Linked DNA regions of Homo sapiens: region 1 is linked to region 2. Evidence: fine-mapped expression QTL. Tissue or cell type: pancreas. Region 2 holds a variant in brackets; the other region holds the start of a gene. All regions are shown on one strand. Distances are from middle to middle.

Region 1 (5,119 bases), 100 kb after region 2:
GTACACTGTTGTTATCTATGTTGGTTTTTAATAATTTCAAAATGAAATACATTTTGATAAGCAAAGTCTAAGAGAGTGTGGCACAAACACTTTAACGCATATAAGCTCGGTGGCTCATGCCTGTAACCCCACCCAGCACTACCCACTCAGGAGCTTATCTATGCTCTGCCAGAATGTATGTTCATCCCTGGAAACCTCACTTGAGAGTGCAGAAGGAGGCTGATACCATCCACGCTCTTCCTATACTACACAGTCTTGTCTGAAATTTAGTCACCTTAATCACTGTTTACTATAAAGTTCCACAACTTAAACATCAGGCAATTACAGGATATGGTGTTTCGGCCCTAATGAACCTTGCAAATACCTGAAATACTCAGAATACTTATTTTCATTCCAGATCTACTCCTAAATTTAAGGGGAGCAGAAGAATGCGAATGAAGGCCAGTAACTATTGTGAATACTATACTAAATTGTCTGTAGGTAATAGCCACACATTGGAACACTAACAAAAGGAAAATGTATGCTTGATACTACTGAGAAACAATACTTTGTCATGCAGGAATCTATAGCATTCAAGCTGAGATGAAGGATTTGACAAGTTAATTTGTCTTCTCTCTTACCTAAGCATTTCTGCTGCTCAAATTCTGACTCCAAAGCAGTCTCTGAAATGGGCAGCCATGCTATGTACAAATTTTCACTGCTTTTGGAGTTCACCGTTTGTTTTGAGGACAGAAGACAAAAGATAGGAAGAAGAGTTTTCCTGGGGCCTGAATAGTGTTCTTCACTGGGAGAGGGAATTTATGGTTATGAGCCAGTGTTCAGTATCAGATCACAAGCGGCAGGGGCACCTATTTTTTTTTAAATTAATGTGTGTGTGTGATATGTAAGTTCCTTTAAAGCATGGAGTCCAGGATAGAAGTCTCTCTTGCCCAGGTCTAAGGGTGCGGGGGGAAGGGGGGGGGCGCGGCGGTGGGAGGGAGTACTTTAGTGATACTAGGAATTTAATGCCAAATGTATTTGCTGTGTGACCTAGATGGCTGAATTTTTTAAAAAGTTCTTCAGCATCGAGAAAAATCCAGTTAGACCGATAGCTTAGAGAGCTGTAGCTTATTTCTAAATTTGACTTTCCCTAAAACTAAGTGTAAATGTCAGTGATATGAGGACTTTTTAAAGAAACAAAATAAAGAAACAAGATACACAAAAATAGAGCAACTATGGCCAATCTTGTTTCATCCCTTTTCATCTATGACCTTACTCATACCCCTATCCATAATAAATGACTTTCAGCAAATCCTAGATGTTCTGCATCCTATATCTTTCTAACAGATATTCTTAAAAAGTATGACCACAATACCATTATCCAATTATTCCTTGTTCAACAAGCACTTACAATTTCATCCATGTGAAAGGCACCTCATGATTTTTACTTGAGGATGAAGATAATTTCTCATGAATTCTCATTGTTTTAAGTCACCTGAAGAGGTGTGATATGCTACAATAAATCTATTTGTAGGGCTTGGCTTCAAGAACTGAAGATTCTGGACCTAGCTGATCTGGTGACAGTGAACTTGAGACCTCTAATAGCGTTTAACTATTTTTTTTTAACTTTTGGAAAGCAAGGTGTAGGAAGGGGATTTAGTTTTTCCATTAGGTCGTGGCATGTTAAGACTTGTTTCTTTTTCCAAAATGTTCAAGTTGCTGAAGAGAACTATGGACTATGGGTCAGGAAGTCCGTCGGTTTCGGGTCACATTCCGCTCCCGCAGGCCTGCGGGCCGCCCCAGCTGGTTTGTTCCCGGCGTGTTAGAGGTCAGAGGCCGAGGCCGCACTCAGTGCCTGGGTCTCGCGCAGCTCCAGGGCTCTCAGGCGACACTGGGCGTTTCCTTTCCGGCTTCGGAAAGTTTTGTTTTGGTTCAAGGAAAGGCGCCCTGTTGACCAAAGGCTTCTCAGTCTCCTCCGGGTGGCCAGCGGCCAAGTTTCCTCCAGCCCAGCGAGTCCAGACTATAGTCCGTTCGAGATCCTCGAAGGCCGGGGAAGCGAGTCTTGTGAGGAGAGAAAGCGAGTGGGCAGCCAGCCTGCCGACTCCACTGCCGCTGGCTGGCCCTTCTCTTCCCTCTGTCCCTGGGCCAGTGCCCGTCGCACCACAAACAGTGCGAGCAGTCTCCCCGGTGACTCCTCAAGGACCCAGTTCTCCACCATTCCTAAGAGAACACTCAACCCAGCCGCGCCCGGGATGCAGAGAGATCTACCAACACCCGAGAATGGGGACAGGGCGCATGCGCACACCGTGGCCGTGGCGTCTAAGTGCTCGCCCAGCTGCGGCAGCCGCTAGGTGGCGCATGCGCCCTGGAAGGTGCGGGCCGGTCTCTGGGAAGAAGGCGGCGGCGGCGAAAGGCGGGGGTGCTGTGGGGGCCGGGCCGTGTTTACACAGCGGCGGGCGGGCGCGGACGCGGAACCCGGCGCGGCGGCGGCACGATGGTCATGGCGTATTTCGTCGAGAATTTTTGGGTAAGCTTAGGATGTTGGAAGTCGTGTGTTTCGAAGTCCAAGGCTTTTGGCGCCTGAGCTTGGCCTGCGTGCGCTTCGGGCGGCGGCGGCGGCCCCTCCGGCAGGGCGAGCGTCCTCCTGCCGCGTCCCGCCTGGGTGAGGTCCGGCGGGCGACCGGTCGCCAGCCTATAGGGACTCCCGGGCTCGCAGCCCTATGGGGACGGGGGCTGTCACCGCGGCCCGGGGGCCCGCAGCGGGGCCGCCGGCCACCGGGGCTGGGACAAAGCGCCGGATGGGGCGGGAGACGGGACCCAGCCCCACCGGAGGCTCCCGGTGCCGCGCTCCGCGCGGGGCGTGCGCGGCAGCTCGGACGCGAAGGACGGGCCCGCGGCACAGCCGCCTCCCGCTGCGCGCTGGCTGGGAGCGCCGGGCGGTGGGGTTTTGCCTCCTGCCCTCACCGCGGGCCCCCCATCTGAGCGATCCCTTTTACCTCTGACGGTTTCCACACCAAATCCAGTGCGGGGTTGGGCTGGACTAGCACTTCCTCTCAGCCTCGCAGCTCGGCTCGTGGGTTTGCGCCCAGGACTTTGCCTCTGGGCCTGTTCACAAAGCGTTTAAAAGTTGGATTTAATGTAACTGGACTCCTTGGGCTTAAATGCATGGAGACCTCCCCCTACTCTGTGCTCCTTCCCCTTCCTCATTCTTTCCACCCCTTGTCTTAGCTCAGTATTAGATTCTTCTTTGAGAATTTCTCCGGCTCCCGGTGGAGTATTTTTCTGCAGTTATTGTTTTTTTTTTTGTAATGGGAAGTACAGTTCAGCCATGTACAGGAAAGGAACGTGTTTACTCAGGTATCTTTCGTGAATCCCATTTTATGCCCTGACAGTTGCAAGTACTGCAGGTCCATTTTCGTTGAGATTTAGACATATTTAAAGGGGTAATCTTTTAGCTAGTAAGGAATGTATGTTAAATTCTTAATTCTAAGTGCCTCAAGCATGGTCTTGGTTAGTAATCAGATCAGTTCATAGTTATTTATTTGTCTTGAATGTACCTTGTTTTCCACAAAGAACGTATATACTAGACCTTAGGTGTTTTGTTTTTTAAACAGCTTTATTGAGTTCACATTTCCGTACCAATACACTCATTTAAAGTGTAGTACAATTCAGAGGTTTTTTCATATGTTCATAGAGTTGTGTAAACATCACCATATCAGTTTTACAACAATTTCGTTATCCCAGAAAGAATCCCTAGACCCATTAGCAGTCACTCCCCATTTTCCCCCTGCCCCAGGCCTAGGCAACTAATGTATTTTCTGCCTCTCTGCATTTGTCTAGTCTGGACATATCCTATAAATGGGGCCATGGTGACCAGTTTCTTTCACTTAGCATAATGTTCTCAAAGTTTATCCATGATGTAGCATGTATCACTACTAATTCCTTTTTATGGTCAAATAATATTCCATTCCACATTTTATTAATATTTATCCAATCAGTGATGGACATCTGGTTGTTCCCACTTTTGGGTTATGAATAATGCTGCATGAACATTTTTGTACAAGTTTTTGTGTGAACATATGTTTTCATTTCTTTTGGGAATGGGATTCCTGGGTCAAATCGTAGCTCTATGTTTAACATTTTGAGGAACTGCCATACTATTCTGAAGTGGTTGTAGCATTTTACAATCCCACCAGCAATATCTGAGGGTTCCTCTCCACATGCTCACGAACACTTATTTGTCCTTTTTATTATAATATAGTGAGTGAACGTGAAGTAGTATTAATATTTTATTGTGGTTCGATTTGCGTTTCTTTGATGCTTAACATCACAGTTAATGTGCTTATTGCCTATTTTTATATTTTCTTTGGAGAAATGTCTATTTAGATTAATTGCCCATTTAAAAATTGGGTTGTCTTTTTTTATAATTGAGTTGTAAGAGTTTTTTTTTTTTTAATATTCTGGATACACACCTTATCTGATACATAATGTGCAAACATTTTCTCCCATTCTGTGGCCTGCCTTTTCATTTTCTTGATGCTGCTCTTTGAAGTAACTCATAAGTTTTTATTTCTCGTGAAGTCTTGGTGAAGTCCATCTTATCTATTTTTTTCTATTACTTGTGCTTTTATTGCATCTAACCCAAAAATTATTTGCCTAACCCAAAAATTACGCCTTTTTTCTTGTTTTCTTGTAAGGGTTTTATAGTTTTACTTCTTCTGTTTAGTTCTATGATCCATTTGAAGTTAATTTTTGTGTATGGTGCAAGGGAAAGGTATAACTTCATTCTTTTGCAATTGTGTATCCAGTTGTCCCAGTACCATTTGTTGAAAAGGTTCATCTTTCCCCGTTGAATTGTGGTACCATTGTCAAATATCAATCGACCAGAAATGTATGGATTCATTTCTGTATTTTCAATTCTATTCCATTGTCTTCCCTTACGACAGCCAGTAACACACAGTTTGGATTGCTGTTGTTTGGATTACAAATTTGTTTTGTATAGCAAATTTGGAATCAGGAAGTATGAGTCCTCTAGCTTTTTCCTTCTTTTTCAGGATTATTTTGACTGCCCTGGGTTCCTTGCATTTCCAGATGAATTTTAGGATTAGCCTGTCAATTTTAGGCATTAGGTTTTACAATG
Region 2 (5,218 bases):
GTATTGCCGTTTGTATCTTGTAAACAGTGCTATGGCTCAGTCTTAATTTGTGTTGTCATAGTTCTAGGGATGATAGAAGTTGATAGTTGATTAATTGCAGGTATTATATGATACAGTTACTAGTTTCTTAAATTAGCTAAGCCCAATCCTGCATTGTAGTTATTCTGTGGCACCATATATCATAATTTCTTGTTTTAGTCTACATTTATTAGGTACCTCATAAATGCTTAGTACCGTGCTTGGGCAAGTAGTCAATTTACAGTTTATTCTGTGTGCCTGGAACTTAGTATGTCCTCTGAGAAAGAACAACTTTCTGTTGCTGTGAGAGGAAAACTACTTTAGCTAAGAATACATACTGCTGTTTCAGAGTGCCTTATTTTGTTTCTCCTAAGAAGATAATATATTTAATTATTATTTTGTATAGGCTTTTGAGTACTTTTTGAAAGACCGCTATAATAGGATAAAGAGATGTAGCTTAAGTTGTAAAAAGGTAAACTTTATCAGGAAATAGTTTTGAAAAATTCATTGGCATATCAGCTTGTTGTTAATCTGGGCCATTCACTAAAACAAGAATTACTGTCTTGGTTGGAGAAAGTAGTTACACCTTGCAGTTTTACTAGAGACTATGTTGTTGGTTCGTTTACTTTCTGACCCATAAACATTGAGGGTATTCAAATATGTAATAAATAGCTAATAAAGTGTTACTGGAGTTTGATTCATGGATTTAATCAGAAATTTAGATTTGTTGGGTGACAAAACATTTTAATCTTTCTGTGTAGTAAAACACAATTGGGAAGCATGTTAGTTAGGGGTTGGGAGTCAGGGCTTGAAGAAAGATGTAATAGAGCATTTTGTCACAGCTGCCTCCCGACAGCGATGAAATACCTGCAAATTGGTATCACTAAAAATGTTGCATCTTGGGGATGAGGGGAAGAATTGTACAGCTGTAGTGCAATAATCTCATAATGCTGACTTTATAATAAGATATATAGCCTTGTGCATAAATGGCACTTTATCTTTTTGGATTCTAAAGAACAAATGAGTCTGAGAAGTATCTTTTTTTTAAAAGTTATTCTATAAAGTTAATTTCTCTAAATGATCTTCAACTCTGAAAGACTTGTTTTCATTTGGAATGCTTTTATTTTTGTCATTTTATGCTTAAATACCTTTCTATTTAGAATGGTTTAAAGTTGAAATCCAAGAATTTTTTTGAATATTTTTTGCTATATTGAGCATGCTGAAGCTGGAACTTTCTTATGTTGTATTGCATGTAATTGATACATTTCAGCCATAAAGCACCTAAGAGGTTTAGCAAGCACTAGCGTGTTTTTGAAATAGATGTTGATAGATTTAGTAAGATATCCTTATTCTTAGTTTAAAAAAAAAACGCAGGACTGAAAATACCACCAAAGAGATCCTTGATTTTTAGATTTAAAATGCTTAATTTCTTCCTGAGATTACACAGAGAAGTTTCCTTAACTACTGTTTGTTCTAGAAACTGGAACAACTTAATCAGTATCCAGACTTTAACAACTACTTGATTTTTGTTCTTACAAAATTAAAATCTGAAGGTAAGTAGGATTTGTATTGATAACTATTTAAAGTTTCTTTAAGACCTGTTTAAATGTACTGAGAATTATTCATTTCAAAGGATTTCATTTTGTAGTAACCTTGTGCTTTATAGATGTGGGATAAACAGTCTTAGTTAATACCACTCAGTATTTACATGTTTAATAAGAATTCCTTTTTTTTAATGTATATACAGACAGAGTCTCACTCTATCACCCAGGCTGGAGTGCAGTGGTGCGATCTTGGCTCACTACAATATCTGCCTCCCGGGTTCAAGCAATGCTCATGCCAAACCTCCCTAGTAGCCGGGATTACAGGCATGCGCCATCACATCCAGCTAATTTTTTTGTATTTTTAGTAGAGACAGAGTTTTGCCTTGTTGGCCAGGCTAACCTTGAACTCCTGGCCTCTGGGGATTCGCCTGCCGCAGTCTCCCAAAGTGCTCGGATTGCAGGTGTGAGCCACTGTGCCCAGCCAGCATTCATTTTTAATAGGGTGTTTGTATAATAAGTTACTTAATTCTTTGCAGATGAAAAACTTGTTGCAAAGTCTACTTTAATGTTTTGCTTTCATGCATATAGATGGATATAACAAAGGTTGTAATACAAAGATTGAATGTAGGTTTTAATAACTGAATATGTGTGTTTTTTGTAGAAAAAAATTGAAAGGTCATATAATCAAAATGAAAAATTATTTAT[C/G]CCATCTTCCAGAGATGATTATTGTTGATCTCTTCAATTATATCCTTCTCTGCTCTTATATGGTCACATACTATTTTAAAATTATTTAGCAAAAAGTGGGATCATTCTATTGATAAGTAGACTTTTGTAACTTTTTAAAAAACTTCTAAAAGTCTACATGAAACTTTTTCATGACTCTTAATTTTAAATTTAAATGATTTCTATGACAGTTTAAAGCCTGAGTAGTCTGATTTTTAAATAACATGGTCATTTGATTATTTCTAATAATATGTAACGCATCCCACTAGACATTATTTCATAAATATTTATGGAGCGCCATCTCTGCCATGCAATTTACAGGCTCAGGAGAGAAAGGTGAACAAAACAGACAAAAATCACTGCCCTCAAGGAGCTTACGTTGTAGTGAGAGTTGTTTCTCATAGCATTATTTGGGTATTCCCTCCCTGAAACATTGTGGACACATAGAAGTCAATTAAATATTTATTGCGCAACTGATTGGCCTCTAAATGAAAGCGCTGTACCCTATTCAGTGATTAGTGTTTTAGAAGCCATGGTGCAATTAATAAAATCACTGCACTTGGAATTGGGAAATAACAAGGTTTAGACAACCAGACCATCTGTAAAGTTTCAGCTCCAAATTCTGACAGGTTAATAGTGTTATTGTGTAGTAAAAACTCACTGATTTGTATTCAGATTTTCATAATTCTTGCACGGTGATTTCTTTTGAATTATTTTCAGTTGATTTTGTAGTTAATTTGGGGGATTTTAATTTGTGAATGAAGGACACAATAGAAAATTTAGAACTCTTAAGTCTAGGTTTTAAGAAACTAAGAATTATTTCAACAATTAATATTCCTAGTTTGATATTTGCGATACATTGCTTCTTAATATAGAAATTTTTCTGACAGTTTGTGATCAACCTGTTTGTTTCTTATACTAAGATATTTATAAATGGATTTTTTAAATCTAATTGTTTTATTTGAAATTTTTAAATTTATTTTCACTAAGCTGTCCACTCTCATGTTCTTATCCTACATTCCAAATATTAGGATTGTTACAATATTATACTCTTGAGTACAGCTTTCTTGGGATATAAGGATACTTCCTTCAGGCCAGGCAAGGTGGCTCTTTCTTGGGATATAAGGATACCTCAGGCCAGGCAAGGTGGCTCACGCCTGTAATCCCAGCACTTTGAGAGGCCAAAGCAGGAAGATTGCTTCAGGCAAGGAGTTCAAGATCAGCAACATAGTGAATGGTGAAACTCCATCTCTGTAAAAATTAGCTGGCATAGTGGCACACACCTGTGGTCCCGCTACTCAGGAGGCTGAGGTGGGAGGATCACCTGAGCTCAGGAGGTCAAGGCTACAGTGAGCTGTGATCGTGCCACTGCACTCCAGTGTACTTAAGTGCTTCAGAAGTACTTAAAAAAACACAAACACACAACTTGTTAAGTAGTGGCAAGAGGGTTTGGAAGTCATTGCTTCCACAAAGACATTAATTACAAAACCATAAAATGTTGGAAAGGATTTTATTCAGATTTTCTTGACCCTAAAATGTGTTTCTTATGTTCATTATGCAGTTTCTCTGAGGATGCAGTAGTTTTACGTTGGTGTAACACTTGATATTTCTTCTTGTGTTTATGCATTTTTTTTTTTCCCTGGGAAGATTGGGACACAAGTTTGCTGCATGTAGTTTTCCATTTTAAAAAAATCTTTGCATCATGGCTGTTCATATTAAAGCAGCAATACAAGTAACATCTTAAATGAAAATGCTTATGTAGTAATCTTATCACTGAATTGTAGAGTAAAATTTTTGATCTGTAAGAGATCTCAGATCAGCTGCTCTAATTATCTCACTTTACAAATGAACAAATTGAGGGTACACTGAAGTAGTCTTAATTTTTGTAAAACAAAGGAAATCGTTAGTCGTTGAATTTTTTAAATGGATTTTAAGAGAGTATATACTTTTAATATTGAATTGTTTCACCTCATGTTGTGGTTTATTAAAATTCTTCATCTTGTAACCTTTATGGTAAAAACAATATACTATATTTCTCGTAAACAAAGTCATGCCATTTAAAATAATTATATGGCTGAATTATTAACAGGTAATTTAAGGCAAGTTTATTGCTTAAAGAAGTTAAATATCTGGCTTCATTTATTTCATGGCAGTTTTTAACTTTTAAGAGAATTTAAAGGTATTTTTGTTTGTTTTGTTTTGGTTTGAGACGGAGTCTCGCAATGGGTTGTAATTGAAAATGGAAAGTAGTTTTTAAATGATGACATACAAGGTTTTATAGTGCTGTGATGACCTGAATGAAGTTTGTGTGCAGAGAAACTGCTCTTTTTGCCTCTACATGTTGCTTCACTCTTGAAGATTTCAGTGCCATTCAGAGTTTGGGAACATCATACTAACTAGAACAAGCTTGGGATATATTATTTTTTAATAAGACGGGTAAAACAATGGTTTTACAATAACATTCTGTTCAACATGCCAGCTCTTCATCTTATAGCCCTTTGAGTGGGGGTAATACTGAAGAATGATTCAAAGTCCTTAGTTTCTTCACTTGTGCAATGGGGTGAATAATACCTGCCTCATGAAGTTGTAAGGATTAAGTGCAGTGCCACTTGGAAAGCACTTAGCAATGTTTAATAAATCATAAGCATTTCGAAGATGTTAACTATTGCTAATATTGTTGGTGTTGATGCCAACTGGTAAAGCCGTCAGTTATGTTCTACTAGTATTAAGTAGCTTTTTGAAAATTTGTAAATACTATCTATGGATTAAACTTATTTTAAGAAAACTCTTTTTAAATGTTTTTGGAGGTATTTTTTTGCTTTTAAGTTCAGAGGCAAATGAAAAACATGATATAAATTAACAGCAATTATATTTGTTACATGAAGGTCTTATATATTCTTTGTCCACTTAATTTTTCAATATTATATTTTTTT

The links. PIP is the estimated chance that this variant, and not a neighbour inherited with it, causes the effect.
Region 1: FCHO2 starts here. The variant in region 2 is fine-mapped to the expression of FCHO2 in pancreas (GTEx, PIP 0.95).

The regions. Positions count from the first base shown.
Region 1 is chr5:72,953,624-72,958,742 of GRCh38, forward strand. FCHO2 (FCH and mu domain containing endocytic adaptor 2) reads left to right here and starts at 2,418. Exons shown (of 26, transcript NM_138782.3): 1 at 2,418-2,506. The coding sequence starts at 2,474. FCHO2-DT (FCHO2 divergent transcript) reads right to left here and starts at 2,261. Exons shown (of 2, transcript NR_186392.1): 1 at 1,391-2,261. RefSeq lists a silencer at 2,311-3,010.
Region 2 is chr5:72,849,749-72,854,966 of GRCh38, forward strand. TNPO1 (transportin 1) reads left to right here. Exons shown (of 25, transcript NM_002270.4): 3 at 1,496-1,571. Among named protein-coding and RNA genes, the nearest start is that of MIR4804, 26 kb to the right of the region's middle. The variant C/G (reference allele first, on the strand shown) is at 2,268.